6 separate regions of the Homo sapiens genome follow, and all the other regions are linked to region 1. The links come from fine-mapping of genetic effects on gene expression. A gene starts in region 1. Each other region holds a variant in brackets. All regions are shown on one strand. Distances are from middle to middle.

Region 1 (4,948 bases):
TAGTGTGCACATGATAGGGCAAGAAGGTGCAGAGTTTGGGCGTGGCCCGGTCTTCTGGCCTGGTACCTAGGCCTCTGATACCCATCTGGTCACTCTCACCTATTACCCTCTCCCACCGTACATGTTGTTTCAGGGGATCCTGGAGCATGCATTCCCAGCAGCTGGCTGAGGGCTGACCTTAGGTCAATCAGTTGCCATCCAGGCAAACTGCCTATAGGATGCTCATATTTATTAGTCACCTACTGGGTACAGAGCCCACATGTTGAGCAGCTGTCCTGTGGGCAAGGAGAGGGAGAAAAGTACAAAACCAAAGAAGCCGCTCAGGCTTCAAAGAGGAGCAAAATCTGGGCATCCATGCGTCTCTCCACCTATTCATTCAATCATCAACCCAGCAACTATTTCCTGATTATTTACTATCTATGCTCCAGGCTCTGGGTAGAAACTATGTTGGGGAGAAAGAGGCAGAGGCCATCAATGTGGTCACCAGGCATGATAAACACCTTCTTGGCATCAAATCACTCTGAAGGACACAGGGAAGGATCAGAGGTTTCTCTAAGCAGGTGTCAGATTCCTAGTTATGTCCCCTCCCTGAACAGCAGTTTTCTCTATAAAATCTAGGGAAGGTCTTATCAGTGGTTCCAAATCCTACCTCCATCCTTGGAAGCTCAAAGACAGCAGCAGAGTTCCAGAGATAATCCCAACTATTTCTTTTGGTGTGGGGGCGGGGGGTACAAAGTTTCACTCTGTTGCCCAGGCTGGAGTGCAGTGGCATGATCTCGACTCACTGCAGCTTCCACCTCCTGGGCTCAAGTGATCCTTCCACCTCAGCCTCCTGAGTAACTGGGACCACAGGCATGCGCCACTACGCCCGGCTAATTTTTGCATTTTTTTGTAGAGATGAGGTTTTGCCATGTTTCCAGGGCTTGTCTGGAACTCCTGGGCTCAAGCAGTCTGTCTGCCTTGGCCTCCCAAAGTGCTGGGATTACAGGTGAGCCATTTGCAAGAACCGTGTACCTACTCTTTAAACAAATAGGTTTAATACTGTTTAAAAATATAAAGGGTACTGTATAGATGTGTTCTTGATGAATGAAAATATGAAGACATGATTGATACATATGCTGTCGTTTGTATTAATAACTGCAAATTGATAGACAAGATGGAGATCTGAGATCCAAGGGCCTCTTGGTTGGTGAAAAAGGGTGGCATTTGGTCATCACTGAAGGCCTTCGTGGTGCGAGCGACCATAGATGTGGTTAGGTGCCCTGCAGGTGATGTGAGTAACTCGTGGAGTGGGTGGCGGGGAAGAGCTGTCCTTTATGGAATATCTTCCGCTTACCAAACCCAAGCTGGGAAGCACACAAATGTCCCCGGCGGCGGGAGGATGACTGCTCCCATTTTACAGAGGAGAAAACAGGCTTGCTCGCAGAGGTTAGGCGTCATGCAGAGGTCATTCCGCTGGACGGTGGCCAAGCTGGCACTCCAACGCTGGGCGGAATGGCTCCAGAGCCAGACTGAAAGTGGGAGAGGTGACTCGGTCCCAGCCAGGCGGTGAGTTCCTCTGGGCTAGGTCCCCGGTGCTGGCGCAGCAAAGACCACCCGGAGAAAGAGACGGTGAAGGCCCCGGGGCTTCCTGGGGCGTCAGGCGGAGGCGGAGGCGGGGGCGGGGCTCCCTCCAGGCAGTCTTGGACTAGCTGAGTTGTCCCAGCGAGATGGGTGACAGCCGCTTTCCCGAGCTCCCCCGGCCCAGGCTGGTGTCCTGGCGACTCGCCAAGGCACCGGGGCGGGCTAGGGCTGGAGCCGGGGTGGAGGAAGAGGGTCGAGAAGCGAGGCGGGCCCAGAGCAGAAATAGGAGAAGGGGGGGGGGAGGGGGCGGGGAGTCTTTCCTGGGGCAGGAACCCGGGCCCCCCTTGGCGCAGCCGGCCCGCAAAGTGATTCTGCAGATGGAAGGAATTAAGTAGGAGGGGGAGGGTCCGATGGTGATAGCGAGAGGAGGGAGTTAGAAGTGTGTGCGTCTGTGTACACGCGTCTGAGAGAGGAGCGGGAGAGACAGGGAGAAACATCAGACCAGACGGAAATAGAAGAAAGGAGACAAGAAGAGTGAGAGAAAGAGAAGGACATACACACACACACACACACACACACACACACGGAGGGCGCCACATACAAGGACGACGGACACAGGAGACTAGTACTAGTCTAAGAGAGAGAGAAAGAAGGAGTATGAGAAAGGAGGGAAAATAGGAAAGGAAAAGTGAGTGAAAAACAATTGCAGAGGATTTGGAAAGAACGAGACAAGAGCGCTGACGACAGAGGGAGACGAAATTGATTAGGCCGGGGCTGCACTGAGCTCCCGGCAGCTCGGGGAGCTGGGTTGGCCGGGCTGGGACGAGGTGGGGCTTGGGCGGGGCCTCGCATGGGCGGGCCCGCGCCGTGCTGCATATGCAGATGAGCCTCACTCCCCTCTCTCCCCACCCCTGACGGTTCATATTCAACGAGACAGCCAATGCAGGGCGAGGACAGTGCCAGGCGGGGCAGGGAGTGGGCGGCGGGGCATCGTGGACCCCACCCCCGGAGCCGCCGCTGGAGGGGTCAGCCGCGAGGCAGATAGCGGATCGCCGGGCGGGGCGGGACGCAGTGGGCGGGGCGGAGGGGCGGGGCCAAAAGTTTCCTGCCCAACTTTCGCTGCCTCCTTCCACCGCCTGCGCGCGCCGGGGCCGCAGTCGGGGGGAGGCGGCGGCAGCGGCAGCGGCTGCGGGCAGCGCGCGGGGCGCAGGGCGCGGGGCGATCACCGTCGGGGCTCGGGAGGCGGGCAGTGGGCACAGGCTCCCCGGTGCCCGCCCCTCCGCTGCGGAGGGGGGCCGCGAGCGGGCGGCCGGGGAGGGGCCGGCACCGCCGCCACAAAATGAGCCTGCTGTCGGCCATCGACACGAGCGCCGCCTCGGTGTACCAGCCCGCCCAGCTGCTCAACTGGGTCTACCTGTCGCTGCAGGACACGCACCAGGCTAGCGCCTTCGATGCCTTCCGGCCCGAGCCGACCGCCGGCGCCGCACCCCCGGAGCTGGCCTTCGGCAAGGGCCGCCCCGAGCAGCTGGGCTCGCCCCTGCACTCCAGCTATCTCAACAGCTTCTTCCAGCTGCAGCGCGGAGAGGTGGGTGCCCCCGCGCGCCCCCGCCCACCGCCCCACCGCCCCACCGCCCCACCGTGGCGGGCCGTTCCCTGTCTGACCCGCTCTTCCTGGCCTGGCGCGGCCCGGCTCCGCATTGCCGGGCCCGGCTTGGCTTGGCTTCGTTCAACTCTGCCAAACTCGCCGCCCGAAGTCCCCGGGGTGCCGGGTGCGCGTCACCTCCCGGCTGAGCCCGGGCTGGAGCAATGCAGGCCGGGGCGGAGCTCTCCCGCCCCCTCTCCCTGCCAGGGCAGCCCTGCTCCAAAGGGGTTGGGGGAGGGAGTTGAGGAGGGGTTGTCTCCGGATTTTCTTCAGACAGCTGGGGTGCGGCCTGGGCGGGGAGCCCCTTCGAAGTGTCCTTCTCACGCCCAACCTTATCCTCGTCCTGGCCACCGCGGGCTGGGACCGAGAGTGCAGATTCTGCTCGGAGCTCCTCTGGAAGGGCCTAAAATCTTTTCTCCGACCTCTGCGGTTCCCGACCCGAAAGGCACCCTGGAGAGCAGTGACTGCCCAGAGGGCTTCTCCTGCTGTTCTCACTCGGGGACCCCAGATACGTCCTCCAGCTGCTCGCCCTCCCCCAGCCACATAGGAAGTGGTTTCTGAGGGCTTGACCCCACAGACTGCGCTGTCCCCAGCCCTCCCAGCCTCGAAGGAAATGAAAGGGAAATCCTCTTGAGCTCTTGGGAGGGGGGCTAGAAAGGGGGGGGGAGAGGTTCCAGCTGCCCAGCGCCTTCTGCAGAAACCTGGGCCGGCTGTGTTGCAAAGTCTGCCTGTTTGGTGGATTCAGTTACAAAGTTGACTGGGCAGCGCCTCTTTGCCAGCAAGATAAATACACAGATCGCCACCACCTCCCAGCCCTTTTTGAAGAGTCTCCAGGGCCTGCCCAGATACCACTCCTTTCCGTGGGCTGGACTCCTCCCCTCCCTCCATTTACTCCTGCCTCATTTGGGAATTTCAGACACCCATCTGTGGCCTTCACTTCCTCCCCTTGTGGGGGTTTTCTCTGCAAAGATGCAAGAGGTGTGTTCGGGGGAGGACACACATGGGGGTCACTTTCCTTCCAGACCTGGGCACACCGGTGAGTTTTAGGAGAGTCAGAGTCCTGAATGGGTTGGGGAGGAAAGCCTATGTACGCAAGGGTGTGCTGGGGGTAAGAGAGGGAGGCAGAGGGTCGCCCTTGAGTTCAACTCTGCCATTATTTACTAGGGGAGGCATGGACATATAAAATGCTGGCCCAAGGCCAACACTACCCAGGCTGACCTGTTGACCTGGGTGGGTAGAACAGGCGTGGGAGGGGGCTGGGTGCAGAGGAGGAAGATGAGTCTGAAAGTGCACCCTTTGGTGTCAGGCAAAAGCATTTCTATGCCAAAGCTCTTTGTAAACTGTAAAGCATTCTCTCCACGTGAGGAATGGTTCTTGGCTGGGGATCTTTCTTTCTTGTAAGAGACTTTTCTGCCTCTTCAGGGAATTGGCTTCAGGTGACCAGTGACTGGAGGACCGTTTGTGGGGTGTTTCTTTGGTGCATGCGTCTTTTCAGTTGTTTGTTCTCTTACCAAACATTTGTTGAGCTCTGGGCAGGACCCGGGGATTCACAGCCACAGGCTAGTGGGGGCCACGGATGAGTAAACAGACAAGGTGATAGAGGGTATGAATGGTGGGTGATTTGATGGGGGTGCTTGTGGGAGCCCCACGGGAGTTTCTCACCCTGGGAGAAGGGTGAACATGACCCACAGGTCAAGTGTGGACCCCTAATCAACCTCTTCTAGCCTCCCTCTGCTCCCCCTA
Region 2 (4,948 bases), 110 kb after region 1:
GCTGCGGTACTTTAGCCCAGTTCATGGCTAGAGTCCAGATGGGGGCCTCTCAGGAGGAGTAGAGGCCTACTGACCTCCCTGCCACTATCCCCATGCCCCACCTCAAGACCCTAGGCCCCAGCTTGACCTGAGACCCGGCAAAAAAGAGCCAGAATCCACCCTATTTTCAAGCCAGGAAGGAGTCTACCCTTTAGTGTGACAGCTTATACCCACCCCCATTTTCCTCTCTGCCCACTCCGTCAGCCTGTTGAAACTCCTGCTGAGGCCCACTGCCTGCCTCTCTGCTGCCAGACTGGGCCACCTGCCAGTCCCACAGAGCCAGCCTTCAAACCCCCACAGCTGGTCAGTCAGCCCTGGGAGAAGTGGTCCCCCCACTGGGTCACACTTCTCTGAATACAGGCTGCTCACAAGCAGAATTTAAGCCATTGATGGGTCAGGGCTGGCAACCATCTCAGGCCACATCAATAAAGGCCAAGTCTCTGTAACAAGGGAGGTCGGGTATTCTATTTGCAGCTCAGGCCTGTGGAAATCAGACAATCTCCAAATATTGGAAGGAGTGTCACAGAACAAGGACAAATGGATGGAGGTTCCGGAGAGTAATGAATGAAAGCTACAGACTTCGGAACAACATGAGGGTAGATAAAAATCTGTCGAGGATTTGCGTATATTGTGCTTTTCCCATCAGATTATAAGCTCCTTGGAGGTCTTGTTCATCTCAGTAGCTCCTCCACCATCTCAGTCTCTTAATACCTGTCATCACTCAGCTCACAGTGATGGCAATAAATATTGGTAGATCAGTGGGTGGATGGATGGGTAAATGTATGAATGGTGATAGAGTATGGATGGGGAGATGAGTAGGTGGGTGGATGCATAGGTGGGCAGGTGAATTGATGGACAGATGGCAGGAGAGTAAATAACGGACTGACTCCTACACTGGAGCAAGGACAGAATGGAAGCTGGCATAACCCTGGCCAGCACAAAACAGGCTTCTCAAAGATTTCTTACAGAGGCTGCAAAAGGCATGAAACATAAGAGAAAAGGCAGATAACCTAGACTTCATTAGCATTAGCAACCTGTATTCATCAAAAGACAACATTAACGAAACAGAATTAAGAAATGAAGCTACAGGCCTGGTGCAGTGGCTCATGCTTGTAAACCTAGTGTTTTGGGAGGGCAAGGCAGGAGGATCCACTGAAACCAGGAGTTCAAGCCCAGCCTGGGAAACATAGCACAGCTCTGTCTCTACAAAAAAAAAATTTTTTTAATTGAACTGAACATGGTGGCATGTGCCTGTATACAGTCCTAGCTACTTAGGAGGCTGAAGCTGGAGGATTGCTTGTGTCCAGGAGTTCCAGGTTGCAGTGAGCTAGGATCATACCACTGCATTCCAGCCTGAGCAACAGAGAATCAAAAGAAAGAAAAGGAAGGAGGGACGGAAGGGAGGAAGGAAGGAAAGAAGGGAGGAAGTAAGGAAGGAAGGGAGAAAGGAAGGAAGGAAGGAAGGAAAAAACTACAAAGTAGGACAAGATAGTCACAATACATACATCTGACAAAAGTTCATGTTCACTACGTATAGAGAACTTACATCCATCAATAAGAAATGGTAAACAGCCCAATAGACAGTGGTCAAAAAACTTGAGCAAGCATTTCACATATACACAAAAAGGTATCCAAATGACCAATAATCATGTGAGAAGGTAGACAGACAGCATCTTTAGGGTCATCAGGACAAAGCGAATTAAAGCCCCAATGGGATACTATTATATACCCACTAAAATGGCTAAAATTAAAAAGGGTTGCTGAGGATGTGGCATAGCTGGAACTTCCATACATTGTTAGTGGGAGTGTCAGTTGGTACAATAACTTTAGAAAACTGTTTGGCAGTTATCTACTAAAGCTAAAAATATGCTTACCTATGACTCAGAAATTCCACTCCTAGGCATATATTTAAAAGAAATGAGGGCCAGTCATGGTGGCTCATCCCTGTGATCCTAGCACTTTGGGAGACTGAGAAACGAGTATCACTTGAGCTCAGGAGTGTGAGACCAGCCTGGGCAACATAATGAGACCTCATCTCTACTTTTTTTTAAATTAAAATTAAAGGCTGGGTGTGGTGGCTCACACCTGTAATCCCAGAACTCTGGGAGGCCGAGGCGGGCAGATCATGAGGTCAGGAGATTGAGACAATCCTGGCTAACACGGTGAAACCCTGTCTGTACTAAAAATACGAAAAATTAGCTGGGCGTGGTGGCAGGCACCTGTAGTCCCAGCTACTCAGGAGGCTGAGGCAGGAGAATGGCGTGAACCCAGGAGGCG[G/C]AGCTTGCAGTGAGCCTAGATTGCACCACTGCACTCCAGCCTGGGCAACAAAGAGAGACTCTGTCTCAAAAAAAACAAATTTTAAATTTAAAAAAGAGAAATGAGTATGTATGTCCACACAAATACTTCAAGTGAATGTTCATAGGTGCCTCAAACTGGAAACAACCGAAGTGCCCATGAACAGTAGGGTGAATACATGCATTGTGGTACATCCATACAGTGGAATACTACTCAGCAATAAAAAAGAACAGCTACTGATGCAGGCAGCAACATGGATGAATCTCACTCATGTGTCTGGCAGCTGAGACCTCGGCCGGGCAGTCGGCTGGAACACAGGCTGTGTCCTCTCCATGTGGCCTGGGCTTCCTCATGGTGTGGGAGCTGGGTATCAAGAACTAGAGCCCAGGAGCAAGACCCGGGCAGTAGCTGTGTTGCTTTCATGACCTACTGCCGGGAGACACATGGCCTTACTTCTGCCACATGCTGCTGGTTAGAAGTGAGTCACAGAGGCCAGCCCATATTCAAGGGAAGAGGAATAAGACTCCACCTCTTAATGCCAGGGGTGGAAAAGAAATTGCATGTTTTAAAATCACTGCACCAGGGAAGATTGGAAGCACGGCCCCTTCAGAGGATGAGCCCTGACTCTAATGGGGACAGTTTAGAAGCTCAAGTGACAATTGGCATGGCCGAAGACCTCGGCATCTGTGGCACACTAATTTTTAAAAATTTTTAATTTGAGTCCTTTTTTGTTCCCTTGAGACAAGGTCTCATTCTGTCATCCAGGATGTAGTACAGTGGTGTAAACACAGCTCACTGCAGCCTCCATCTCATGGGCTCAAGCGACCCTCCCACCTCAGCCTCCCAAGTAGCTGGGACTAGAGGCTACAAAAATCTTGAGGATATGCTATATGATTATGGAAAGTACAAGAGTAGGTGAAACTAATCTATGGTGAGATAAGTCAGAATAGGGGCTACTTTGGGGGAGGGGGTCACTGGAAGTGGGTACAAGGGAGCCAGCCTTCTGGAGTCCTGGAAGTGTTCTAAATCTTGATCTGCATGGTGTACATATGTGTATATTTACCAAACTCTACATTGATGATCTGTGTACTCATTATATTTTTGTTATACTTCAATAAAGCATTTTTAAAACACAAACACAATTCCTTTATTCCAGAAGAGTTCAGTGTGCTGGCGTGGAAGCAGAGCCCAGAAGGTGCATTATCTCTCCTCCCCTTCCAAGAGGCTTGGTTCTCAGAACACAGCATAATACATCTCACGGGAATTGAGAAGTCCTTGTCTGAGGCAAGGGGGCTGGGCTAGATGACGAGGAGAAGATGCTCATATGGGGAAGTCCCCGGGGTGGGATAGATGACAACAGGATGACACATGCCTGGGACTTTCCCACCAGCTCTTCCCAAGGCCACCGCACACTTGAGCTGCTGAGGCACTCAGAGAGCGCTGGCCAAGGGTGTCTATGCCTCCGCACCCTAGTGTGCTGTACTCTGAGGGGTCATGACTCCTGGGGGCTTCCCACCACTGCCCCTCCTCTGTCTCCAGTGTGGGCCACTGTACCAGCTGCAGAGCTGAAATCAGAGGGGAATAGGGAGGAGGTGGGAAGAGGGGGACCTGGAGCTACTTCCTGCCCTCCTGGGCCTCAGTCTTCTCCTCTGTAATACAGAAAGATTGTGCTACACTTCCAAGGCCATTCTCAATGCAGGTTCTGAAGGTTCCCTGGGCACCCCAAGCCACCCATGAGCCCAACTGGCTTGCCAAGCACATCTGGAGAGCTAGAGGGCTCTGTCAGCTGACTGCACAAAGCCCAAGTCATCTGGGCTTCTCCTCCCGCGAGTCAGGGAGCATCACAGGAGGCTGACACAGGTGAGCCTGTGAGGCCGGCTGACCAGGGCAGGGCACACCTCATGGTCAGAAGTGAGTCAGCCGGGGCCTGGCTTCACTCAGCCAGGAAGCCCACGGGATGGAGCTGGACCAGGCTGAGGACTAACCCATCACAGGTGCCAAGAGAGGAACCTGAGTCACCCTTGCCCCCTCTCTCTCCCACTGACCCCACTCCTGCCAATCAGGCATCCACCCTTTCCTCTATACCTCCTTGGCATCCCTCGGGTCCATCCTTCCTCCCCATTCTGCGGCCCCCTACCTTAGAGACTGCAGTAGGCCCCTCCCTGCCCTCCAATCCTAGCCCCAAAGTCCAGTCTCCTTCATTCTTCCAGGTGGAACATTTTCCCCCTCCTTTATTCAGGCATAATTGACATTCAATACAATGCATGGATCTTAAGAATGAAGTTTAAAGAGTTTTGATAAATGCATACTCCTGTGCGACCAATACCCAGTCATGTCAAGGCATAGAATACTTCAATTACCTTGGAAAGTTTTCTCTACCCCTGCCTCCAGTCACCCAGCCTACACCCAAAAAACCCTCTGTGCTGACTTCTACCCCCCAGAAATGAGCTTTGTGGGTTCTTAAGCTTCACATAAAATAGAATTTTTTAGTAATTATACATTAATGCTCCTTTATGTCTGGATTCTTTCACCCACTGTGCTTTTCGTCTTCATCCATCTTTTGTGACTTTTATTGTTGGATAAGTTTCCATTTTATAAACATGACTCAATTTGT
Region 3 (4,948 bases), 42 kb after region 1:
ACCTTGGACAGGTGACTTAACCTCTCTGAGCCTCTATTTCCTCACCTGGAAATGGGATCACAATGAAGCTACCTACAGGTTGTGTGCGTGGCCAGCCCCAGCACGCAGGGGAGACTCAGCACTCTCCACCCCGGTCTGTGGTTGCCACAGTCTCCTAAGTGCTGTGAGCTCCAGCGCTCACCCAGAGATGGAAAGTTTGCTTCTCTTTCTACCCAGATGAGGAGATCGAATCCCAGAGAGAGGAGGTGATTTATGTGAGGGTTTTGCGAGGCTGGAAGTCACGCCCACAGCCTCTTGCCAGGCAGCAGTGGGGGCCTCAGCCCCCAGGCCTCTGCCAGAGTGGCCCCAAACTGCTGACTTCAGCATTTCACTGGCCAGGGCAGATCAGATTTCTTTTCTGGCACTTGGCCACCCTGCACACCCTTCCCCCATCACTATTTTGAGCTGAGCTCCCCTGTCCCCTCCTCCCAGGGCTGTGGCCCTCACACCCAAAGCCTCACTCCAGGCTGAGGCCTTTCCACCTCTTGACCCACCACCTTCCCTCCAGCCAGGGAAGGCTGGGCTGGTCACGGCCATGTCTATCCAGGCCTTGCCAGGGACGCCTTCAGACACAGAGCCAGGGGCCAGCTGCCCTGTGCAAATGGCGCTGCTAGCTCAAGACAGCCGTCCAGGGTGCTCAGCACTGCCCAAGGAGGCGTCCTGGGACTGGACAGAGCCCACGCCATGATCAGCCCTGGCATTGCCACCTCCTACCTGTGCGACCTCCACCCTGCCCTAACTTCTGCTGTCCACCTCACACCTCACCCTTTGCAGGCACTGCCACTCCTGGTGTCCCCTCCAGCTGCCAAAGGATTCTGAGCCCCAGCCTGAGCCTAGTGCTACCATAGAAGTGAGAGGTGTGGAGGGTGCACCTGACCGCAGCACACAGAGAGGCTTGTGGGAAACAAGATGGCAGTAGGGGAATTTCGTTTAAATTTCGGGTGAAATCTCTGAGTTTGGCAAGCTGGAGGTTGGGTCAGGGCAGGACATGACCTAGGGAAGATCATGTCTCTCGCCTTTCCTGGAGCTAAGCGTGTGGTGCAAACCACAGAGTCCCCTGGAAGTTCAGGGAGAGGGCCTTCTCCAGGGCAAGGCGGCGGGTGGGTTCTTATCTCCACACCAGCCAGCCTGGGACTCAGCAGTGGAGTGAGCTCCTGAGCAGTGCATTAGCCCTCTCTGGGCCAGGGAGACCAGGGTGCCCCTGGAGCTTGCTCTTGAAGGGTACATGGCTGTTCACTGGTGAAGTGTTGGGTACAGGGAACAGCAAGAAAAAGGCACAGATGGGCAGCATGTCACTTGCAGGGAGTGACTTTTCTTTATTTGAGTGTAAGTGCTGTGGGTGGAAGGTCAGCTGGGGCCAGAAGGGGAAGGGGCCCGAATGCCTTGCATGTTTCATCTCAGCTCTGCGGTGAGGCCCAAACCTGAAGTGGGCCTTCATTTAAGTATTTGGGGAGATTCTGCCTGGCCCAACTCAGGCGGTGACTGCAGCAGGAGAGAGAGGTGCAGTCGGAAGAAAGGTCTTGCTGAGCAAACGGGACCCAAAGAGGGATGTGCAAGATCTGGAAACAACAAATGGTTTTCAAACTCAATAGTCCCCTCCAGCAATCAGCAAACAGCAGGGTGGCTGCAGATCTTCCATCCACCCACTAAGGCAGCCAGCAATCCCTGTCTCTGCAGTGGCGGAGGAAACCTCTGTCTTTTGCAATCCCTGTGATTCGGAAGCTTTCCACCCCTCTGGACCGGCCCCTCTTCCCCTCCCGCCCCTCCGCTCTGATCCGTGTGGTTTGCTAAGGGAGGAAAGCCAGAGCAGGAAACAGATAACTTAGGGAGTGGCTGTTCATGTGATTAAAATGTCTTTGCTTTCCAAAAAGTTTTGCCTGAGATTACTTCAAATCGCCTGGCTGGGGTGGGATTTGGAGAGGGGGCTTCTTGCTGCCTTCTGGGCAGCAGCGCCTCAGGGCCGGGCACAGGGCTGGAGGCACGGGGTGTTGGGGGGCTTGGCACTTCTCTGGGTCCTGGAGGGGCTCCTTGGCCTCTGTGGGCCCCGTTCCCCCGAATGTCTCTGTCTCCCAGCCCTTTTGGTTTGTTTCTGCATCATGTCTCGCCTCTCCTGGGCACCCTGTCCCCCCTTCTCCTCTTATCTGCTCTGACGGGCGCTCTCTCACTCCCTGCCCCTCATTCCCAACATCGTGTCCTCACTCCCTGTCTCTCCAGGATCTCTCCCTCATCTCTCTGTCCCCCGCTTGTTTTCTCCTCTCTATCTCCCTTCCCTCCTCTCCACACCCC[C/G]ACTCCATGCCCCCCTCCCCAGGGTTTTCCTGAGGCCTTTTCCTGTCCCTGTGAAAGCTCCCATTGTTCCTTGCACTTTGACAAACCCTAGTGTTGTGGAATCAGGATGGCATTTTTGTGGTGGCTTTGGGCTGGGAACGGGGGTGGGAGGGGTGACAAGAGGCCAGGCCTTCTGGGCCCATGCTGGGCTGCAGCAGGAACCCAGAAGAGGGGAGGGGGCCCTGGGCAAGGAGGCGAGGACGGCTGTGCGCAGACAAGGAGGCCCTTGAGGCTCCAGAGGAAGCCCCGGGTGGCCTCTTGCCGCGTCCTTCCTCCCTCCCAGCATCCTGCAGGCCGCGGCCCAGCCCACCTGTCCCTCTGACCGCCTGCTTCCTCCGGGGCCTCCGTGGAGCCTGCAGCTGCCCAGACCAGGCTGCAGGGACGCAGCCCTTCCACCTGCCTCCCCCGGCCGTGCATGTGGACATGTGAGTGTGGAGGTCTTTGGTTGGTCCCTAAAGCAGTACCACAGAGCACAGAGGGGAAGGAAAAGCCAGGGGCTCAGCACTTGGCAGACTTGCTGCCCCTGTCTCGAGCCTCAGTTTCCTCATCCGTCATTAGGGTTAAGAGTGCTGATTCAATGAGGCCGTGGCAGTGATCAGAGATAATTTCATGTGGCATGCATAGGTCCCATGCCTGTCACTTGGGAGGTCTGTCTGGCCTCTGCCTGAGGGCGTGAATCCAAGTGTGTTTTCACAGGTGTGAGTCCGACTTGGGCTTGAGCCCAGGAGTATGTGGCTAGGGGAGTTCGCGACTGGTGTGGGTCACGGTTGGGGAAAGGGTCACAGGGCTGACTTCTTTGGAAGGCCTTGGACTGAGAGCTCCATGAAGACAGGGCATTCTTCATCTGTCTTGTTTCCATATTTCTGGAATTTTCCACAGAGCCTGGTGCAGAGTGGGTGCTCAGTGTAAATTAGGTGAACAAATGAATATTGAGGTGGTGGCCAGGGTCGGAGGTAAGAGGTGCGGCTGTGTTCCTAGGAGCAGGCTTTTTCTTTAATTTTCTCTCAACCGTCTCACGGAGAGGCCGCACATTCAGTGGAAAGTGTCGTTTTGGAGTCAGCAAATTGGGTTTAAGTTCTGGCTCCATGGCTGTGTGGCCTTGAGCAGGTTGCTTGGCCTCTCTGTACCTCAGTTTGCTCTCCTGTTAAATGAAAGAGCTCTGGAGAGCCAGGTCAGAAAGCGTGTGGCACATTGTAGGTGCTCATTGAATGCTAGTGTCTCCAGCTCCACCAGAGCAGCCCCCTCACATGGAAGATAGAAAAACCAAGGCTCTGGCCGGGCACAGTGGCTCACGCCTATAATCCCCACACTTTGGGAGGCCGAGGCGGGCGTATCACAAGGTCAGGAGATCGAAACCATCCTGGCTAACACAGTGAAACCCCGTCTCTACTAAAAATACAAAAAATTAGCCGGGCGTGGTGGCGGGCACCTATAGTCCCAGCTACTTGGGAGGCCAAGGCAGGAGAATGGCATGGAACTGGGAGGTGGAGCTTGCAGTGAGCGGAGATCACGCCACTGCACTCCAGCCTGGGTGACAGAGCGAGACTCCGTCTCAAAAAAAAGAAAAAAGAAAAAAAAAGAAAAACCAAGTATCTAAGACAGGCGTGGGAGAGCCAGGGCCCAACCTGGACCTCTGACCTCTATCCCCTGTTTACTCCGCACTGCCCCAGGCTCAAGGAGAGACACTAGGGAGAATGACCAGGGACCTTCTGCCTCCTCTGGTAAAGGCCTCCAGAAAGGGCCAGCAAGGCCACACAGAGGATCCTGGGCTGGGGTCGTGAGTCCGTGGTCAGCCCTGCGCCCCCTCTGTGGACTAGTTGCCCCACCCCTGTGGCCTCTGTTTCTACATCAGTGGAAAGTCTTTCTCGAACTCCTGAGACCGGGGCTCTTGCTCTCTGGGAAGGTAGACTGGAGCCCAGGGCCACCTCAGCGGCCGGGCTGCAGGAAAGCACGCAGACTGGGCAGACCGGGCAGGACAGGGGCCAGCAGGCAGCCCATCTGTTCTTTATTTCCTCCCCCTGCTCCTCTTGGCTCCAGCCAGAGCCTCTCAGCTGGACGCACGGTGGGGTCGGCCTTGTGCTCCATGGGAGGGCGGAGCGTGAGTGGGCTGCCAGGCACATGCTGAGTTATGGGCCTCCTGGGAGGCCAGTGACCCTGCCCAGCAGTCAGTCCAACCTCTCATTCTGGAGATGGGAAAACTGAGGCCCAGAGATGGGGAGGGATGCCCCCAGCATGCCAGGACCCATGAGAACAGCGGCCCCTTCCCGTTTCTCACCATCCCGGCTTGGTGGGTCTCTTCTTTGTGCAATCCTGGCATGTTGTGTAGCAATTTAGAAAGTGAGCCCACGTTAGGTGGCTTGGGCTCGGATCTGGACTACCCCATTTCCTGGCAGCGTAGCTTGGGCAAGCCATGTAACCTCTACATGCGTCAGCGTTCCCATCTGAAACCTGGGACTAACCGTACTTAGCTCATGGATGGTTGTCGGGACACAAAGAGTGCCTGGCCCTGACCAAAAATACCCAATGTTGGAGCAACAGTGATTTCTCCATCCCAGGGTTTGGCAGGGCACAGGCCTGCGCCCCT
Region 4 (4,948 bases), 66 kb after region 1:
CCATGCGGTGACCCCGTCCGTGTCTGTGTCTGTCCATACGTGTGAGTCCAGCTAAAAAGACAAAACAGAACCCGTGGGCCCAGCTCGGAAGGTGCGTGGAGAAGGCTCCGACGTCTCCGAAGTGCAGCCCTTGGGATGGCATTCCGTTGTGTGCCTTATTCCTGGAGAATCTGTATACGGCTCGCCTATAGAAATATAGCCTCTTCATGCTGTATTAAAAGGACTTTTAAAAGCAAAAGAGGCTCACAGGTTTCCTTGTTCACGCAAGCATGTAGGGAGGCTGGACTCTTTCAGAGGCAGGAGACGGGGCAGGCATCAGAGAGACTTGGGGCTGGCCTCAGCTCCCCTGGGTCTGGGTCATCTTGTCATTGCCCTGCCTCCATGCCATTGATTTGCCTCCTCCCAGCCTCTCTGCCCCCAACTGTACACTCTCCAGGGCAACGGCCCTCCCCAGGTTGGCCCCAGACTGGGTGAGATTGTCGGCAGATGAGGTCACGCGTTCACTCAGCGGGGGGACTCCCGGGTGACCATATATAGGAGTGAATCTGCCTCAGAGACGGCAGCCCTGGGCCGCTCCCACTTGGCACACTCGGCCAAGATCAGGATATGGGCCCAGACAGGGAGCATCACACAGTGAGCAAACAGATCAGTCCAGGGGAGACGGGGCAGGGGCCCCTCTTCTGACCAAAGCCTGGGCTGTCATGAGGTGGGGCTCCTGCTGAGGGTCATGGGGAACCACAACGAAGCAAGACTATCAGCAGCCACCCACCTGCAAAGCCCAGCATCGGCTCTTGCTGTTCTCAACCTTGCTGCTCACCTGAGTCACCTGCGGGGCTTTAAGAACATCATGCCTTGGTCCCACCCCAGGGAGGCCAAGGAAGTGGTCCAGGGTGTCTGAGTTTGTAAAGCCCCCCAGCTCAGTCCATTGTGCATCCAAAGTTGAGCAGCACTGGACTTCAGATGGTCCCTAGTGTTCCTGTGGGACCCACGGTGATGGGGAGGAGGCAGGGGGCAGAGAGTCCTGTCAAGGGGGCGCCCGGTCCTCAGCTCCAGCCAACTGTTGCTATCTATGAATGTTGTTGCCTGGGGAGGGAGGGAGGGGCAGCAGGAGAAAAACTGGAAATCCCAGTTGTTATGTGAAATTTTCCATGTTTTAAATTTTGGCAACGAGTTAAAGAGTTAACTGGATTTTTGAATAGTGTAGAAGTCAAAGCACATCCCTATGGGCCATCCCACGGCCCCTGACTGTGGCCTCTGAGATGGAGCAGAGAAAACAAAATGCCAGTCCTTGGGGTCAGGGACCATGGATGTGAAGGGGGAGGGAAAGGCAGGAACAGAGGCCACCAAGGCCAGACCTCCTGTCTTATTTGGGGTACAGAGCAAATCCCAGAACAAAGCCCCTTCCTGCTGATTTGCATCTAGAGAATTCCCTGCGCGGTGCCTGCCCTCAGTGTGTGGAATGGCCAGAGTCACTGGCCTGAAAGCAGGTGGCTGCCAGTCGGGCCCAGCAAGGGAGTGGAGAGGGGACCCATCTCCGCCAGGGTGAGAGGAGAATGGACCCCCTCCTCCACACCATGCCCTCTGCCAGCTCAAGTCCTCCAGCAGCCTGGGTGGGGCTATTGCTCTTCTTGGGCAGATCTGAGGAAACAGAGCCGGTGTCTGTCTCAGGGTCCTCCTGTCCCCTTCAGCACTGCCACCAGGCCAGCCCTGCCACCCCAGCTGTGTGACACTGGGTGGCTTTCCCCCTCTCCAAGCCCCAGCTCTCCCCGGGGTGTTGTGTGGATAAGACAACCCACTGAACACAAGACAAAGCGCACTGCTTGCACCCAGGAGGGGCCCGGGGAGTGTGGGTCTCCTGTTCCCACTGTCTGTGGCTCAGGCAGAAGCATCCGACCAGTGATCACACCAGGGATTCCGCAGGGAGCCAGGCCTCGAACCCAGGGCCCCAGGTGCTTTTGCGCACCCAGTAAGCATTGACTGGGCACCCATGCATGTTGAGGCTGGGGCTTCAGGGCTGTTATTTGATGACATGCCCTTGTCTTTGAGTGTGTGGCAGTGTGCATGC[G/A]CCTGTGTGTTTGTTTTGTTTTGTTTTCTGTGGAAAGAACACAAACCCAAGGCAAACAGCCTGCATTTCAACATCTCCTGGAGCCGTGGAAACCAGTAACTCCCTGGACAGGAAGGATTTCCGGTTGGACTCAGTGCCCATATCCAGAGGCAGCTGGCTGCTGAGGACCCAGGAGAGAGCAGAGTCCACCAAAGAAATGGCCGGCAAGGGATCCAGAGAGGGTGGCCCTGCTCTGGGCTAAAGCTGAGGCCCCACCGGGAAAGGTCTCACCTAGCACACTCACCCAGCAGGCAGGTGGCAGAGCCAGGATTTGATTGAACTTGGAGTTCTCACCTCCCAGTGCAGCGTATCAGGGCAGAGCTGGGACAGACACAGAGTTGCAAAGGTCAGACCAGGAGTGAGGGTCCAGGGCTGGGTGGTCTCAAAGGGCAAGAGACCAGGCAGGAGGAAGGGAGGTGGGGTAGGTTGGTGCCAAGTGGTGATGGTTGCCAGGTTGTGAGGAGCCCCCTTGGCATCTGCTCCAGACACAGAGAGGGGAGACCTGGCCTGGGGAGAGACAGCGGGAGCTCAACCGCCTGAGCACCAGAGCCCATCGGGAGCCCAGGGCCCCCCCTGGCAGGACCCTGACAAGGCTCTACTTGGAATGTGTGACACAGAGCCTCATGTCCTTATCTGTAAGCTGGGGGCAATCAGGACACACTGAGTGGCAGGAGACACCTGGGCAGCTCCCGCACACAGCCCTGGGGTGGCCACCTCTCTCCCACCAGCCCCCACTGTGGTGCTGAAGCTCCCAGGCTCAGGCTACCAGCCGGCTTCTGCGCTGGACTCCGGCCATAGGCTGGAGTTCCTCCCGGTTTTCTGGCCTCATGCATCCTCCTAACAGTCCTGGCAGAAGCCAGGGCAGAGAACAACATGTCAGTATGTCGGGTGCATAAACTGAGGCCTGGGGAAGCCCTGCTGCCCCAGATTGACAAGCAGGGACCTCCACCACACCCTTCAACCTCCACTGTCTGCGCTGTTTCCGATCCTGACCAGGGCCACCGAGCGGATTCCCACCAGCCTGTCCAGTCCTTCCTTCAGCAAACAGCTGTCTGTCAGTGTGTCCTGGGACCTGGCCCAGAGCTCTGAGCTAAGCCTGGGACCCATAGTCTGCTGGGGAGTCAAGCCCCCACCTGCCCTCCTCAGAGACCCTGGTCCTCCTCCCTACAGCCTGGTAAACCCAGGGCTAGGCATCTGAATGCCACCCTTCCAGGGGCTGCCTCCTGTGCAGCCTGTGCCCGGCTCCTGCCCAGGTGTTTGGAAGTGGGGAGAAGGGGCAGGGAATACCCCAGATGAAGGGAATGAGGGCCGAGGTGGGCTTGCCATCTCTCCAAAGTCAGGTGTCCTTGCTACTCCCCCAGAGAACTGGAGGGAGCCAAGAACGGGCTGCGCTTGGGTATAAAGGCCACTCTCGACACTTTCCCTGCCGTTTGTTCTGAGGCTGGATCCCAACTGAGATGTCAGGGCCACTTGCTTCCCCCTGCCCACACACACACGCATCCTCACACATCTCACACGCGCACCTTCGCACATCTCACACACACACTCACACATCTCACACCCACACCCTCACACATCTCACACACACACATCTCACACGGGCACCCTCACACATCTCACACGCACACACACATCTCACACGCACCCACACACATTTCATGCGCACACTCACACATCCACACGTACATTCACACACATCTCACACGTGCACCCATACATCTCACACGCTCACTCACATCCCATACACATCACACATGCACCCACACACATCTCACACGTGCACTCACACATCTCATATGTGCACACCCACACAGCTCACACGTGCACCCTCACATCTCACAGTGCACTCACATCTCACATGCTCACACACCTCACACGCATCCTCGCACATCTCACACACACACCCACACACATCTCACACACGCACCCACACATCTCACACGTGCACTCACATCTCTCACACACATCTCACACACCCACACATCTCGCACATGCACTCACACATCTCACACGTGCTCCCTCACACATCTTACACATGCATTCACATCTCATACACACATCTCACACACCCACACATCTCGCACGTGCACCCACACATCTCACATGCGCACTCACACATCTCACACGTGCACCCACAAATCTCACACGTGCACTCACACATCTCACACACGCACCCACACCGCACACGTGCACCCTCACACATCTCACACACCCACATCTCACACATGCACCCTCACATCTCACACGTGAATCCTCACACATCTCACATGTGCACCCTCACATCTCACATGCGCACTCACATCTCACACGCACACTCACATATCACACGTGTACCCACAAATCTCACACACGCACCCACAAATCTCACACGTGCACTCACATCTCACACGCGCACCCACACGTCTCACACGTGCACCCTCACACATCTCACATGCGCACCCTCACACATCTCCCGTGTGCACCTTCACACATCTCACACACAGACCCTCATCTCACACGTGCACCCTCACACATCTCACATTCGCACCCTCAAATGTCACACGCGCACTCACACACATCTCACACGCGCACTCATACACAACTCACGCACCCACATACATATCTCACATGTGCACCCTCACACATCTCACACATGCACCCTCTTACATCTCACACGTGCACCCACACATCACACACGCACCCTCACATCTCACACACGCATGCACACATCTCACACGCACCCTCACACAACTCACATGCGCACTCACATCTCACATGCGCACCCACACACATCTCACACGTGTACCCTCACACATCTCACATGTGCACTCACTTCTCACACGTGCACTCATATCTCACATGCAC
Region 5 (4,948 bases), 95 kb after region 1:
AATTAGTTACCGAAAACAGCAATTCTGAAAAGAATCCCCATGGAATAGCTAGATCTACCCCCAAAGCTCGATCAAGCCTTGTTGAGCGCCCCAAATACACCCCAGAGGATGCCTGGCTTCCAGGACACATTCTGTCACTCATGTTGTGACCTTGCCTCAGGCCATGTAGCCTGAATCCTGGTAACCCCATCTATCAAAAGTGGAGTATTCTTTGTTCTGCATGGGGAGGTAACAGGATACTGAAATGCTCTGAAGAAAGAAGAAGTCCATACAAATGGAACCACGTTAACGGTCATGAATGATGAGTCAAGAGTCAAAGGAACAAGGGTGGTGAAACTGCAGGAGTCCTGGGCAGCTCTCAACCCGAGAGAGTCCAATAATGTAAAAGGCGGCTCAGTCCAGCTCCAGCGAAGCTGGCGTGGTTCCAGCCAAGAGCAGAACTGCAGGATCCACTGGGGTCCCATGAAGGAGCAAAGAGCAGGCTGAGCCAGCAAGGACCTGCCCAGCCCTGCCGGCCACATCTCTTGGGCTTGGAGGCTGGACACTTCTAGTGTCTGCCCCACCTAGGTCTCCCTAAAATCCTCGGAAATGGGCTTTACCAAGTCAGCTCCCAGCCAGTTCATCCCCAGGTGCCCCAGGGCTAGGACATTTGGGACTCTGGCCAGAGAAATTTATCCCTTAGAGGAAAATGTACCAGGAAAGAGACATCCCTAAAATCCATGGGCATTGAAAACAGGGCCCTTACAGGCCTGTGGCTATCTGCAGGTTTATGATAATACAGAGGCTTCATTTGGAAATTTGCTGATATCCAAATGTCTGCTGCAGCATTGCCAAGGCTCAGCCCATGGTCAAGACAAGCCTGGGAAACTCCAGGTTAAAACCACACAAGTGGGCTTCTACTCAGTCCCTCCTGAGGCCTCATAATATGTTTTGCAACATTTCCCAAATGTATCTGGTAGAGAAACCCTTTCGTGTGTGCGTGTGAGCAGAACACACTCAGAAAATTCCAGGTGACAGCAACAATGGGAACCCGAACCATGACAGAGTTGCAGGAACAACCCCAATTCTCCCTTGATCCTTCCACTAACTTTCTCTTTCTCATACAAACACACAGCCTGGGAGAGGGCCACTGTCCCAGAGCAGAAGGCCTGGCTGTAAACTGCCTGCCCCTAAAAGTGCACGAATCCTCCTCCAGCTGCAAGGCTGCCCGCATTCCCAGAGGGCCTGGGGCAGGGAACTCACCAGTCTGTCTTTATGGTGCAGATGAAGAACTGGGAGCCGTTGGTGTTAGGACCAGCATTAGCCATGGACAGGACACCTGCAAAAACCAGCAGGGCTGAGCCACGCTGCCCCTGGAGGCACCTGCCTGGGAGGGCATTTGAAAGGGCAGACGGTGCAAACCACACCAGGGACATTCGAGTCTGCAGATCCTGGGACCCAGAAGAGGAGAACCAGGGCCCGATACCAGCCCCCCAGGGTATGCCTGCCTTTGCTGCCTGCTAGTTCTCAGTGGGGTGGCCTGAGAGGACAGGGCCTTGTGGAAGCTCTCAGTGGTAGAGCTGGGGCGGGACCTGGGGCAGGACCCCAGGACCTGACCTCCAGACATCTCCACATTCTACCTTGGGTCTTATAGGTGACACGATGCTGCCACAATAACCACTCTGGCTTCCAAACCATTTGCTTTTTATCTAAGCAAGATTTTAAATAATCCTCAAAGGACCTAAGGACCATTCTGCAACAATTCTAAGTGTCCTAGAATTTCCAACCCGAAACTCAGAGGACAAACAGGGAGGTGGCCAGGGCCTCCATTCTGCTTAAAGGTTCTTCCACAAAGTTCCCAAAGGAAACCCTGCTTTTTAAACTGAGAGATGAGAAAACTCTAGGGAAACTCAACAAGCCAGAAATGCTGAGACAGCCTACAGTGTCGCAGGGAGGAAGGAGACTCATCAGATACTGGACGGTGACTGCATGTGGCCTCTCAGGGCCTGCTGGGGCTTCCAGGCCAGGTCAGAGCTGTGGGGACACTCACCCTAGAGGAGGCCCCCACTCACCTGGCCCCACGTGCTTCAGTGTAAAGTTCTCGTCAGGAAAGCGGCTTCCGTAGATGGACTTCCCGCCTGTGCCATTGTGGTTGGTGAAGTCGCCCGCCTGTGAGCACAAAGCACCTTCTGAGTGGCTACCATGGAGCAGGCGGGGGCCACGGCCCTGGCGCTGGCAGCAGCCTCAGCCCACCCAAGCCCACCCAGTTGGCGCCCCTCAGGTAAAGGGGTCAATAAACATCCAATAAAATAAGAGCTAATAATAAGAATAATAAGCAAAAAAAAAAAAGACAAAACTTAAATATCTTTTGTCAC[C/A]GTAACTACCTTTGTTTCCAAATGACTTACTTTTTGTCTGAGCAAATTTTTAAGTAATCTTCAAAAGACCTAAAGGCCATTCTGAGATGATACTTAGTGACCCAGAATTTAACCCACTCCTCCTGGAGGGCAACAAGGAAGAGGCCAGAGGCCCCCCAGTTCCCGAGTCTAGTCTGTGGGAGTACCAGCAGCTGGTCCAGACCAGCTCCCCAGGCCGAGTCCCCTCACTGTCCGCGCACTGCCCCTTACCCAGCCCAGCAGCTTTCCCAACCCTTGCAGACCCAGGACAGAGTCTGCCCAAGGCTGACATCTTTCCTCAGGCCTCAGCTAAGGCCCAGGCAGCCGTGGCCAAACCTGCATGGGGCACCCATGGCCAGAAGAGCCTGGTAGCAGCCCCTATGCCTAGCGCTGCCCAGCCCAGGCCATGGCTGGCTGCTGTTTTCCTGAGATGGGATCCGTGGGTAAGAGAGGGGAACTGACCAGCCCAGCTGAAGCATCCACAGGTGTCAATTAGGTGCTCCCTAATTGATATCCCTCCCAACGGATGACTCAGGACTCTGGTCTGGACTCCCGGTGCCACCGCCTTGTGCCAGGGAGCCCTCCCGCGCTGGAGTTCCCACCCTGGCTCAGGACTTCCACCTCAGCTCCTACTTTACCATCAGCCTTAGGGCTGGGCCAGGCCTGCCGTCCCTGTGTTCACCCCGTATCCAGGCTTCGCCGCACATAGACGTCCAGTCCCAACCCGCTGCCACTTACCACGGTACGATGACGGCCACTGGGTCAGGGTGGAGGGAATGGGGAGAGAATTCCAGGCAGGAAGGTCTTCAAAGAGGTCATGACAGCCATGCCCCTGCCTCCAGGCTCTGCCTGCCCAGGACACCCAATCCCTGATCTTGAAGGTCTGTGCTAATAGAAGACCAGCCCCAACACCACCTGGGTCCTGACCCACAGGAAGCTCCTGCTACAACACCTACCCCCAAACCTCTGACACAGCAATACCAATGCTTGTGAAAACTGAGCATGACACATGACCGAAAAACATTCATTTCACCGAGAATAATGCCTTTCTCTGGGAAGGGAAGCCCCAAGTCCTGGCGTGTGTGTTCCTGCCCTGGACCTGTCTTCCTCCTCCGCCTCCTCCACTTCTCTCTCTCCCTCTCTTATCTCCCACACCAGTGCTCAGGGGCACACAGGGGACAAGGTCAGAGACCACTGGAATATGCTGGCTCTTCAAAGTCTTCAAGGCCACCCCCAGCACATCCATCTCCCAACCCAGCTCTCTCTTGATAGACTCCACCTCCCAGTCCCCCGGGCAGGGCCTGCCACTGACCTGGAGTGGCAGCGGGTTGGGGCTGGGCTTCCATGTGCAGTGAAGCCTGGATACAGGGCTAATGCAGGGAGGGCAGCCTGGCTGACAGAGCAACTGCAGCTGCTCTGCTCAGCACCTTCCTCATACCAGGCATCTTCACACACCCACAAGGCAGCTCCTGCTCTCATCCCCCCTTACAGAAGAGGAAACTACATTACCTGGCACATGAAGGAAGGGATCACCCTGTGGAAGGTGGAGCCTTTGTAGCCGAAGCCCTTCTCACCAGTGCACAGGGCTCTGAAGTTCTCTGAGGGTCGAAGAGAAACACAGGTCAACAGGGCCAGGCCCCAATTCCAGGGTCATACCCGTTCCAGCCAAAATCCCTGCTACATCCCCAGCAGTGAACAGGGGGATAAAGACTCTGGCCCACCTCTTGGGTCTGCTCTGCCCAACTCGCTATGTAACTGGACAAGTCACTCCCCTTCCCTGTCCTCAGTACCTGAGCACTGTGACAAGAGTACAGGCTCATGGCTGTGCTGGCCAGCAGGGCACGGACTCAAGGGCTGTGTGCCCATCACCCTGCCTCACTGGGCACCAGGAGTGGGGAAGTCTCCGGGAAATTTACATGTGCCTTCCACTGGCTCTGAGGCTCCCAGCTACTATGAGAGAGGAGGGCAGAGCCAACGTTGAGGCCCAGAGAGGGATGGCAGGGCTGCCCCAGAGCACCCAATGGCTGAGCCACACATGGAGCTCCCATCTGTCAGGGGTCTCTGAGCCCCGACTCTTCTCATCACGCCACCCACCTTGCCCTGCCTGGCCCCCTTCCCTCTAGACCCATCTCAGAAGGCCCCAGGCCCTGTCTTACCAGCTGTCTTTGGGACGACATCTGCCTTCAGCTGTTGGGGGAGAAGAAGGACAAAAGAGGATGGTCATTGGAGAGGCAGGTGAAGGTGGGTGTCTCTCAGCACCCACCCACCCCCACAGTGGCCAAGGAGGCTAAGGAAGAAGCACGTGGACATTCCATTCCCATTATTGCCAACCCCCATGGGAGGCAGCTCTATCATTTCTGGGAGCCGTTTCCTGAACCCAAGGCTGGAGGAGGTGGCCTTGGTTTCCTAATCTGTCAGAAGAGATGACAATGCTATCTTGGCCTACTTCTGTGGACACAGCTGGCAGTGCTCCCACAGCTGGGCCCAAAGCATCAGAAATTCAGGGACAAGAGAGTGTGTCTAAGGTAGAAGCCAGACCAGCTCCTCCATTCGGGGTTGGGAAACTGAGGCCCAGG
Region 6 (4,948 bases), 22 kb before region 1:
AAAAGAAAAAAAAAAGGCCGGGCGCGGTGGCTCACGCCTGTAATCCCAGCACTTTGGGAGGCCAAGGCAGGCAGATCACGAGGTCAGGAGATCGAGACCATCCTGGCTAACACGGTGAAACCCCGTCTCTACTAAAAATATAAAAAATTAGCCGGGCGTGGTGGCGGGCACCTGTAGTCCCAGATACTCGGGGAGGCTGAGGCAGGAGAATGGCGTGAACCCGGGGAGCAGAGCCTGCAGTGAGCTGAGATCGCGCCACTGCACTCCAGCCTGGGCGACAGAGCAAGACTCCGTCTCAAAATAAAATAAAATAAAATAAAAAGCAAAAGCTGGTAATACGAGATAGGAGAATATGAGCAAGGGCACGAGCGCATCTGTCGCACCAGGGCATGTGCTTCCTCCGTCAGGCCAAAGACAGGGGACACTCCCTCCCACCATCATCACACACAAGTCCTGGGCCTTGCTCTGCTTCACCCTGCTGAGCTCCATGCCTCCACCGGAGCCAAAACCTGTGTCCCAGCGAATACTCTCTCTGGACTGCCTTGGTCTTCAGGTACTGCCCACCCAGCAGCCACTGTGGCAAGAGATGTGGCTATGCTGACTGACTGAGGCAAACTAGGGCCTCCTCTAGTGCTGGGGGCGGGACAAGCCCCCCACCCCTCCCCACCTAGAACTGCATGGCAGCAGTTCCTGAACATTGGGAGGGTAGGAAGGACACTGAGAAGCCAGAAGCCATGTTCATCACATAATTTGTTTCCCTAAACCAAAAGGTGATAGTGGAGTGGAAATAAAGCTTGCAAGAGGAAGAGTATAGAAACCTGAAAAATCAGGGCTGGAAGAGGACTTCATTTTCTTTTTATTTTATTTTTTGGAGATAGGGTCTTGCTCTGTTGCCCAGGCTGGTGTGCAGTGACATGATCATAGCTCACAGCAGCTTCAACTTCCCTCGCTCAAGAGATCCTCCTACCTCAGCCTCCTGAGTAGCTGGGACTACAGACACACACCACCACACCCGGCTAATTTTTAATTATTTTGTAGAACATTTCAAAACTTTCTATGCTGCCCAGCTGGTATCGAACTCCTGAGCTCAAGCGATCCTCTGGCCTTTGCCTCCCAAAGTGCTGGGATTATAGGTGTGAGCCACTGGGCCCTGCCTGGGAGAGGACTTTGAAAGTCTCATAGTTTAATTCACTTGTGTTGCTGTGATTCCTTCCTCATCTGTCTTCCACGGTGACATTCAGTCTCAGCTTGTATACCTCAGACCAAGGGGAGCTCACTCCTCCAGAGTAACCCACATTCATTCTAGAGACGTCTATAACCCCTGGAAGTCTCTCTTCATATTGAGTCGGAACATTCCTTCCTGTGTCTTCTCCCATGGGCCCAGCCCTCCCCTCTGGGATATCCAGGACACATCTGCTTCATCTGTCCTAAATCTGAGTCCAACAGGAATGTGTAAACAGTGATTGCATTTCCCAAAGACTTCTCTGGAACAAACTGACCACTCACAGGCCTGTCACCTCAAAGATGGTGGTCACAGAAGGGCCCCAACATCTGGAGTGGGGAGCTGGGGAGGCCCTTGAGGAAGCCATCTTGAAGCTGGAGGGCATCCGATGAGCATCTTCCCTGGAAGCATTGGTTGGTCTCCAGGTCAGTCACAGTTTACTGCTTAGAAACAAATGGCCTCAGTCACAGGGAGGAGCCCCAGGCCCCTCACGCATGTGTTTATTGGAAGGATATGATCTCCCACACATAGAAACACTGCCTCCTCCCACCTCATCAGTTCCCACAGAGCTCTGCAGTGCCTAGGGAAGGCCACGTGCCCTGCAGCTTTAGTTCCTGAGGTCTAGGCTGCTCCCATCTGGCCACACACATCCAGTCCCCCTCATCTAGTCCCAGGCCTGATCCCCCACCACCTAAGAGGTCTGCAAAGGGTGGGGCAGTACACCATGATAGAAGGGGTCTGGGCTGGAGTCTGAGCCCTCCAGGGATCCTGCTCTGCTCAGATAAGTATGCCTTTCAGAGCCTCAGTTTCCCTTATCTGAAAAACAGTGAAAGGAACTCATTTGAGGAGGTGCTCGGGGAATGGGAAGTACCGAGCACATGGTAGCTTCCTAACAGGCTTGTGTATTACGGTATCTTATTGATGAGGTCTTCCCTTCACCTTCCCTGATTTTCAGAATCCATTGAGGGGGTTTCAAATCCCATGTTCTAGCAATCCTGCAATTTGATGGCAAATAGTAACGTTCCTACCATGGAAACACTCTGGAAATCCTGCCTTCCTCCAAGAAGGCCTCACATGTTGATCAGACAGGCTGGTGGTCCTATGCTCTCCTCAACCCCTCTCCCCAGCTTTTATAGATCTTGTAGTAGATGACTGTAGTTGTGCCTTCCCCTCCCCTTCTTGGGAACTGTTCCACCCCATGCACACGCCTATAGAGGGGGCCCTAGCAGTATTATCACCCTTCCTCTGGGGCTTCTTTGACCTCAGGACAAGCTGGATTAGGCAGAGTTCTTCCCTCAGATTCACTGGGTTGGAAGTGGAAGAATCCCAATCCTTCCTTCTCCAGGGTGTGCAGGTCTGGAGCTGCTGCCAGTGTGCAGTGC[A/G]GGGAGAGAGCTGAGAGGGAGGGAAACAGAGAGAAGAGACACAGCATATTTGAGTTCCTGGTTTCTGTGTTCTTCAGCCCTGTCTGTCTCCTGCTTAGTGACACAAACCATCCTTAGGATCCAAGAGGAGCAGCCCATTTCCAGCCTCTTCTGAGGTCCAGCTGATCGGACTTTGAGTGGACGTTTGACCACGGAGAATTAATCCAGAAGCCAGGCAGGTCCACTATCTCCTAGAGCTGGAACATAGAGTGCCAGGGTCGGGTGTTTCCAGGGCTCCACTGGTGAGCCACCGATAAGCAGACAGAACCTTCAGACTGGTCATGAGGATTCTTACATAACAGAGAAAAACAGAAGTCCCTGGAGCCTGAGGAGGTTGGGGCAGAGAAAGGAAGGAGGCTGGGAGAGGGGCTGCCTGGGCTCCGGCCAGCTTCCCCCTTTGTGTCTTCACTGCCTTGAAAGTCCTGCCCTGGCTGCCCTCAGGTACCATCAGATATTTCTGCATCTATCTGGCAAATCTTCCCTTTTGCTCAAGCTACTTTGCCAGGGCTCTTGTTCCAGGTCCCTGGCTATCCTGTCCTTCAACATGGAGGCAACAGAGTCTGTGATCCCCCATAGGGGGCGCTGGAGAACAAGTTCTCACAATTGACCAAGGAGTTTACAGCCTTTTTTTTTTTTTTTTTTTGAAACAGAGTCTTGCTCTGTCGACTGGACTGGAGTGCAGTGGCTGCAACCTCCGCCTCCCGGTTCAAGCGATTCTCCTGCCTCAGCCTCCTGAGTACCTGGGATTACAGGTACACACTACCACTCCAGGCTAATTTTTGTACTTTTTAGTAGAGACGGGGTTTCACCATGTTAGCCAGACTGGTCTTGAACTCCTGACCTCAGGTGATCCGCCTGCCTCGGCCTCCCAAAGTGCTGGGATTACAGGCGTGAGCCACCATGCCCAGCCTACAGCCTTCTTTTGTTCAATTGAGATATGATTCACATAACATATCACTCACCTTTTTAAAATACAACATTTAGTGTTTTCTAGTGTATTCACAGAGTTGTGCAACCGTTACCACTATCTAATTCCAGGACATTTTCATCACCCCGAAATGAAACCCCATACTCTCTAGTGGTCACTTGCCATTATCCCTCCACCCTCCCCAGCCCCTGGCATCCAACAAGCTGCTTTCTGTGTCTACAGATTTGCCTATTCTGGACATTCATATAAATAGAATCATACAAAATTTGACCTTTTAAGTATGGCCGTTTTCACTTACCATAACGTTTTCAAAGTTTATTTATGTTGTAGCATGCATCAGCACTTTACTTTTTGTAATGGCTGAATAATGTTCACATTTTTTTGTACCCATTCATCCATTGATGGATATCTGGGTGATTTCCACTTTTTGTCTATTGCGAGTAGTGCTTCTATGAGCATTTGTGTACAACTATTTAAGTACCTGTTTGTTTTCAATCCTTTTGGGTATAGACTTAGAAGTGGGATTGCTGAGTCATGTGGCAATTCTCTGTTTAACTCGTTGAGGAGCCACCAAACTGTGTTCTTTTTTAAAATTTTTTTTAATTTTTTTTTTTTTTTTGAGACAAGACTCTCCCTATGTCACCCAGGGTGAAGTGCAGTGGCACAATCTCGGCTCACTGTAGTTTCCGCCTCCAGGGTTCAAGTGTTTCTCTTGCCTCAGCCTCCTGAGTAGCTGGGATTACAGGCGCTTGTCACCACGTCTGGCTATTTTTTGTATCTTTTAGTGGAAATGGGGTCTCACCATGTTGGCCAGGCTGGTCTCGAATTCCTGACCTCAAGCGATCTGCCTTCCTTGGCCTGCCAAGGTGCTGGGATTACAGGCGTGAGCCACTGCTCCCAGCCCCAAACTGTTTTCTATAGTGGCTGCACCATTTTACATTTCTACCATCAATGTTTGAGGGTTCCAATTTCTCCACATCTTTGCCTATCCCAGTGGGTACGAAGTGGTATCTCACAGAGGTTTTGATTTGCATTTCCCAAATGACTAATGATATTGAGCATTTTCTCATGCACCTATTGGCCATTTGTATGTCTTCTTTAAAGAAATATTTGTTTTCCCATTTTAAAAATTGGGTTATTTGATTTGTTTTCATTTGTTTTAATTTTTTAATTTAATTTTTTTTTTTTTTTTTTTTTTTTTTTTTTTTTTTTTGAGACGGAGTTTTGCTCTGTCGCCCAGGCTGGAGTGCAGTGGCGCGATCTCGACTCACTGCAAGCTCCGCCTCCCGGGTTCACGCCATTCTCCTGCCTCAGCCTCCCGTGTAGCTGGGACTACAGGCGCGCGCCACCATGCCCGGCTAATTTTTGTATTTTTAG

Which allele goes with the higher level. Alleles are on the strand shown, and positions count from the first base shown. SD is a standard deviation of normalised expression in the study named. Not every link is listed here.
With allele G in place of C in region 3, the expression in testis of the gene that starts at base 2,719 in region 1 is lower (small effect, 0.20 SD a copy in GTEx).
For the expression in subcutaneous fat of the gene that starts at base 2,719 in region 1, G is the high allele of the variant in region 4 and A is the other (small effect, 0.21 SD a copy in GTEx).

Evidence for each region. PIP is the estimated chance that this variant, and not a neighbour inherited with it, causes the effect.
Region 2: its variant is the best candidate, but not a certain one, in a credible set for the expression of ZCCHC24 in whole blood (TOPMed, PIP 0.60).
Region 3: its variant is the best candidate, but not a certain one, in a credible set for the expression of ZCCHC24 in testis (GTEx, PIP 0.89).
Region 4: its variant is the best candidate, but not a certain one, in a credible set for the expression of ZCCHC24 in subcutaneous fat (GTEx, PIP 0.89).
Region 5: its variant is the best candidate, but not a certain one, in a credible set for the expression of ZCCHC24 in left ventricle (GTEx, PIP 0.62).
Region 6: its variant is the best candidate, but not a certain one, in a credible set for the expression of ZCCHC24 in subcutaneous fat (GTEx, PIP 0.55).

What each region holds. Positions count from the first base shown.
Region 1 is chr10:79,443,395-79,448,342 of GRCh38, reverse strand. ZCCHC24 (zinc finger CCHC-type containing 24) reads left to right here and starts at 2,719. Exons shown (of 4, transcript NM_153367.4): 1 at 2,719-3,148. The coding sequence starts at 2,903. It overlaps LOC105378383 (a long non-coding RNA gene), which reads right to left and starts at 2,102. Exons shown (of 4, transcript XR_946104.4): 1 at 1-2,102. RefSeq lists silencers at 2,287-2,796, 2,807-2,866.
Region 2 is chr10:79,330,678-79,335,625 of GRCh38, reverse strand. No RefSeq gene overlaps it. Among named protein-coding and RNA genes, the nearest start is that of PPIF, 14 kb to the left of the region's middle. RefSeq lists enhancers at 3,562-3,841, 3,514-4,014, 3,882-4,141, 3,141-4,340, 4,015-4,515 and cis regulatory regions at 3,410-3,910, 3,453-3,953, 3,523-4,023. The variant G/C (reference allele first, on the strand shown) is at 2,317.
Region 3 is chr10:79,401,264-79,406,211 of GRCh38, reverse strand. The region is part of intron 2 of ZCCHC24 (zinc finger CCHC-type containing 24); the gene reads left to right. Among named protein-coding and RNA genes, the nearest start is that of ZCCHC24, 42 kb to the left of the region's middle. RefSeq lists enhancers at 34-841, 2,458-3,266 and cis regulatory regions at 1,515-2,015, 1,522-2,022. The variant C/G (reference allele first, on the strand shown) is at 2,326.
Region 4 is chr10:79,377,615-79,382,562 of GRCh38, reverse strand. ZCCHC24 (zinc finger CCHC-type containing 24) reads left to right here. Exons shown (of 4, transcript NM_153367.4): 4 at 1-238. Among named protein-coding and RNA genes, the nearest start is that of PPIF, 33 kb to the right of the region's middle. The variant G/A (reference allele first, on the strand shown) is at 2,066.
Region 5 is chr10:79,348,687-79,353,634 of GRCh38, reverse strand. It overlaps PPIF (peptidylprolyl isomerase F), which reads right to left. Exons shown (of 6, transcript NM_005729.4): 2 at 4,529-4,559; 3 at 3,882-3,970; 4 at 2,052-2,148; 5 at 1,243-1,318. Among named protein-coding and RNA genes, the nearest start is that of PPIF, 3.7 kb to the right of the region's middle. RefSeq lists cis regulatory regions at 1-575, 1-582 and enhancers at 1,415-1,915, 3,918-4,418. The variant C/A (reference allele first, on the strand shown) is at 2,355.
Region 6 is chr10:79,465,857-79,470,804 of GRCh38, reverse strand. No RefSeq gene overlaps it. Among named protein-coding and RNA genes, the nearest start is that of ZCCHC24, 23 kb to the right of the region's middle. The variant A/G (reference allele first, on the strand shown) is at 2,605.